Linked DNA regions of Homo sapiens: region 2 is linked to region 1. Evidence: fine-mapped QTL for protein levels in blood plasma. A gene starts in region 1. The other region holds a variant in brackets. All regions are shown on one strand. Distances are from middle to middle. Region 1 holds the start of ADGRB3 (adhesion G protein-coupled receptor B3). Region 2 overlaps ADGRB3 (adhesion G protein-coupled receptor B3).

What was found. PIP is the chance, under the fine-mapping model, that this variant and not a neighbour inherited with it causes the effect. Protein levels are from antibody-based Olink assays in UK Biobank. Linkage for the fine-mapping came from a reference panel and not from the study's own genotypes, which makes the PIPs less certain.
Region 2: its variant is fine-mapped to the plasma level of the ADGRB3 protein (UK Biobank, PIP above 0.99).

The regions. Positions count from the first base shown.
Region 1 is chr6:68,633,411-68,636,439 of GRCh38, forward strand. It overlaps ADGRB3 (adhesion G protein-coupled receptor B3), which reads left to right and starts at 1,872. Exons shown (of 32, transcript NM_001704.3): 1 at 1,872-2,590. LOC127898563 reads left to right here and starts at 2,480. Exons shown (of 1, transcript NM_001414704.1): 1 at 2,480-2,557. The coding sequence starts at 2,480. The coding sequence ends at 2,557. It overlaps ADGRB3-DT (ADGRB3 divergent transcript), which reads right to left and starts at 914. Exons shown (of 2, transcript NR_125872.1): 1 at 775-914. RefSeq lists a silencer at 1,611-1,820.
Region 2 is chr6:68,958,631-68,961,130 of GRCh38, forward strand. The region is part of intron 8 of ADGRB3 (adhesion G protein-coupled receptor B3); the gene reads left to right. Among named protein-coding and RNA genes, the nearest start is that of ADGRB3, 320 kb to the left of the region's middle. The variant G/A (reference allele first, on the strand shown) is at 1,094.

The DNA of each region.
Region 1 (3,029 bases):
ATGCTTTTTTTTCCTCTGGATAAAGTAACAGAACTGACCAAATTGCCTTGCGAAAATCATAATTACGATCTCTAGGGAAGTTGAAATAAATAAAATGTTTTTCTCCTTTGTGTTGCTCAATGTTCTTTGTTTTTAAAAGAAAATGTGTTGCTTAAACGGTGTTTCAAAATTTGTTCTGGACATAAACCCTAATTATTTCCTTTTAACATTTCCTTAAATGAATAAAAAATATTGTAAAGAACCAAAATGACACAAAACCAAAATGCCACCCAGGCTGCTCTCTTGCCGGTGATTTGTTACTGGGAAAATAGTTAAAGCCTGCTGGGGAATTATTAACTGTTTCCCCTTACAGTGTTTATCCCAGGCATTCGTTTAAGACGGGAAAGCCTTGAAGAGGGTCACTCTATTAATATGCATTAAGAAGTAAAGGACCAATTTTAATATTTCAAACAACTCCAGTGGATAACAGACCATAAACTTCCTGTTTTCACTATCAATCTCTTTTAAAATGGTGTTCTTGGCTATCCATAATCGCCCCAGGGGAGAGAAACAAGCGGAGGAAAAAAATGCAAGAGTGAGGGGAACAAATGATGGAAAATTGCTTTATTCAACTTCACCTGCCGCTCGAGAAACTCACCCTTACGAAGATTCCAGCACTTTATATGAATTACCCATTATGGTTTCCTCCCACCACATCACTGCACTATTTTAGCACTTGTTTTGCAAACCACCAACTGCGTTTACAAGTAGAAACATAATCAGGAGGCGAATGACCTTTTGTAGCATGTATCTGAAGCTGGTTTATCAGACACTTCGTCAGCCAACTGTCCAGGAGGCAAAATGACTATCTATGATGATAGATAGACAGACAGATAGATAGTTAGATTAAAAGGTGGGGAAACATCCCTTTTCCCTTTTTCCTTTCTATATAATCTGGTTTTTTCTCTTCACCCCTTTTCTCGCTTCTTCCCACCCCGTCCCCAAACCTGTTACTAGGGAAACTTGAAAAAGAATCAGATACATTAAGACTACAAAACGAAACAAAAGTTTAGACCCCGAAACCATGATTCCATTGCCAAGCACAAAGCAATGCAAGAGCCCAACGTCGGTCGCCGCACCGCGATCCTGACAAAGCCTGTATGGAGCCAGAACAAATAAGATGTTAATTGCAGCCTCGCAGAGAAAAAAATACTATTGTTCCAGCCAGAGACACTCAGCAGCTCGGTAGCTGGGATGTGCCCCCTCCGCTGCGGACTGGATCAATTCTGAATCCCGGTACTGAAATGACAGCTCTCTGGCTGCGACAGGTCTGCGCTGAAAGAAAGAGAAAGACGATCAAGTCCAGCATTCACTTCCCACCCTTCAGAGTCGCCTTCCCATCCTCCGCACCCCCCTGCCTCGCCTCCCAGTGAGTTTCTCTTACAGTTGGTCGCCGCCAGCCCCAGCGGTGGGAACTGAGGATGCAAAAACCTCCCAGACGCAGAAAATACCGCTTTCGGGACGTGCTTGGGTTTGAGTAGCCGTGACGTGCAGGCGAACCGCGGCCCTGGCTGGAGCTCCGTGGAGCCCCCCTCCCGCCAGCCTCTCCCCCGCCCTCCCGCCGGGACTCCCTCCTCTCCCACCCCGCGGCTCCCTTCGCCTTCTCTCTCACACACCCGCCCGCGCCCCCGGCAGGCAGAACTCCAGGAAGTCGCAGCGGCCGCGCCGCGCGAGCCGAGCCTCTGGCGGGCGGCGGGGCGCACCGCAGCTGTGCATAAGAAGGGCGCGCGGCACCCGGGACGCGCGCGCACACGAGCACGCGGGAGGCCGCCGCGCGGACGCGCTCCCGGGACACGCGCACCCCCCGCGCGCGCGCCCAAGGGAGAGCGAGCACTGCGCGCCGGCGCGCACACCCGAGACAGAGCTTTACTATCTCGCTCCCTCTCGCGCCTCCCTCCTCGCTGGGCATTCAAACAGCTTTCCGACATCACCAGCCAAGGATTTTTTTCCCCGCTCTCCTTAGTCGCCGTCCGTCCATCAGTACCTGCAGGGGGGAGGAGGAGGAGGGAGGAAAGCGGAAAGAGGAAAAAGCATAAGCTTGAGCCTTCCGATCCGACCACGAATACTCCTGTAATAAACCCACCGCCCCAACAAATCTGCCATAGCAGCCGCCGCCGCCGCCGGTCACTTCTCGTCTCAGCGCTTTCTTTGCTTCTTGGTTTGTTGGGGGTAGCTTTTATGAAACAAATCTTTGCTATTAAGCCACTTACATTTTGGGGGGTTCCTTAGAGTCTCCCTTGGGGGGGCTTCTCCCTCCCTTTAGCCCCCCTCGGTTTGGAGGTTGGATTCAGTTGGATACGGCGCAAGGTTCTGGGCTCCTGCTGGCTTTTTTTTCCTCTCTCTCATCGACCCCCCTTTGGTTCCCACCCCCCACCTTTTGCTTTTCGTATGTATGCATTTTTAAAAATAAATCCTGATTTTGGAAGCTGAGCCGGGGAAAATGGGCAACGGTGATTGGGACCGAAGGGGAGTCTCTCCGTCACTGTTGCTGGGACGCGTGCCTGTGCTGGTGTCTTAGAGCAAGAGCCTCCCTGAGCTTTCGGAGTGGAAGGTAAGGAAGGGGGTCCAGGGGTCACCTTTTCTCTGCCGGGGGTCGCCACCGTGGAGCTTTGGGCTTAATGTTTGAGAAGGGAGGAAAATGAAAGGAAAGGCTGTTGCTGGCGGATGGGGAGGCTGTGAGCAGATCCGACTGTCTGCATTTACTTAAACGCCGCAGTTGAAAAGTTAGAGAAGTCTGGTTTTCAAGAGATGTGCTGGGTCAGAAGGAATAAGCGGAGAGACCTAGAAAATCTGGCAGTTTTGTGTGATTGGGGTAATTTTATGAGGGGAAAATTTTAGGTTAAAAGGAAGTTAAGAGAAGGCAGTGGGTCTTCTATTGGGGGGAAAAATCTGTGGAGTGATGGCGCCGTCTATGTTCGACTAAACTAAAGTGTCACCCAGAAAATCAGTTTTGAGAATAGCTAAACTCAATGCTGGTTTGCTTCTCAGCA
Region 2 (2,500 bases), 320 kb after region 1:
GCTGGCTTTCATGACTTAAGGCAGGTTAAAAAAATATCACATAAAACTAAAAAAAAAATTATATACACTACACATTTTTGTTATTATTAACATTTTCATTTTACTCTTTTCAATTATATGAGATGAAAATAACCATAAATTACTTACAAGCATATAGATACCGTTTTCATAATTAAAAAGAATTCTTGAATCAGCTAAATAATTTAAACATCACTACTTATACAGGGGCAAAGAAAAATAGTGTGTGTGTGTGTGTGTGTGTGTGTGTGTGTGTGTGTGTGTACATATACACCAAGCTTTTGAATATATCCTTGTCTGGTGCATTTATATAAACAAAAATTGCATTGTCCATCAGAAATTGTGTGTGACTGTTAATTTCAAAAATACCTCTGCTTTCTTAGAGAATTTTTTTAATTTACAAAAGGGGTTTTTCTTTCATATTAATTATTTAACTTTTTATGTGCAGTCACATCATCCCCAAATTATTTTATCAAGTTTTTGATAACTGTTTTCCATATTGTACTTGATTTATATACTGGAGTTCCAACTCTGTTCAATGTCCTCTCTGTAGTCAATGTGTATTACTGTTGTGATTATGAGTATAGCGTTCCTAATTTCAGCCATTATATTGCTTCAAATTTACACACTGACAATATAAATTGAGAAAACTTTCAAATTACCATAACATTTTTCTAAGGCATCTTTGTCTTTGTGTTAACAACAAAGCTTCAACAATTTTTTTAAACAATATGCTTTTTCTAGTATTATTTTTAGTCTATTCATTCTTAATTTTTCTTCAAGTTGCTGAAAACAACTACTGTTTATTTTATACTTCACTTAATTTGGAGTCAAAACAAATTAATCAAGTTTACTAAGAGGCCTTTTGTTGTCAGGAAGGAGAAATATATATGAACATCTTTGTTTGAATAATTAATGAAAATAATGATTAATCATCTGGATCTAATCTAAAGCTGTTATGATGTCTACTGAAAATGAAAAATAAAACTATTTTCCCCTCAAGATTAGGATATTTCTTTGCTGGTAGATAGATTAAATAAAAGTATTAAAAGTGTCATCATTGATGACAAAAAAT[G/A]TATTTCTTTTGTTTTCATAAAAAATAATTGTAGAAATAAGAAAACATTTTTTAAAAATAATGCTAGTTGGGCTATAGAATAGCTACAGGGAAGATAATAAGTGGTCCAATTTTTAAATTGGTCAGACTCACCAGATAATGGTTTCATTTATCTCAATCTCATTGTGTATCCTCAGGCTTTGAAGGTTAAAATGGTAGGATGGTAATAGCTCCCCTAATTTTATTAATTGCTACAATGTCATACATAATATTTTTTAGGTTTTTAGTTTGATTTTCACCCCAATATTCCCCTGGTTAATAATATTCAGAAAGCAAGTGTTACTGCTGGACTGTCCTAAGTTTACATTCTAGCTTCGTAGGAACCACTTTGCCCTGCTCCCAGGAGAAGGGCTTGCTACTTCTATAACTCCAATTCTAGGATCATTACTCTTTAGTCATTAACTGCTAAGTTGGAACCTACCATTTACAAGTAAAAATTACACTTTATTTATACATAAAATTTCGTTCTTGGAACCACAGCTGCTTTGTCTGTAAGTGGTGGGTGAGGCCTCCAGGTTAAATGTGCTGATAAACACTTGTGAAGTAAGTCAGCCATATCATAAATGTATACAATATTAGCAACTTAGACCAGAAATGTAGGAATTATTGTGATGTTTATCTATAAATATTCATACTAAAGGAGGGCAGCCGTAGTGTTGGTAATGCAAAATTTGTCTTGAACACTGTAATACACTTGTATTAGGATTTGGTGCCCTATAATATAGCGAATGTGATCCCCATCCCCACCCTGCTTACGAAAAATGTGATTCTGGAAGTGACGGTTCCTTATTTGTATAAGGTTGCTCTCCAACAGGATTATGCCTCCTCTGGAGACCAGGAGAGTCTTCCTTTGGTCTCTAAGTAATTGTCTTTTAACTTAGCTTCAGTAGGAAAGAAGAACAAAGCTTGCCTACTTTGCACTCCTATCTTCTTTTGAGTGCCTCCCTCATTGTCCAAAGCAGTGCTTCCCAAACTTCAGTGTACATAGGAATCATCCAGAGAGCTTGTTAAAACACAGATTCCTGAGCCAGACCCCACCAGCCATTCTGACTCAGTAGGTCTTGAATGAGCCTGAGAATCTGCATTTTTATGAAGGTCTCAGGTGATGCTGAAGATGCTGGTCTGCAAATCATCCTTTCAGTTGCACTAACTTATAGTAAAAATAATAATGATAAGGTGATAAAATTAACAAAGAAGTGGAATACAGTCCTCTACCTCTGTTCCACTGGAGAAAGTTGAAATATCACCTCAACAAAATTGCAAAATTTTATTTTTTTCATCCTTTTTCATAAACGATGAGGGATTCTTTCTGGAATTGGTTGATAATGAAAACACAATTCATTTTGAATGCCTCTAGCCAACTCATGT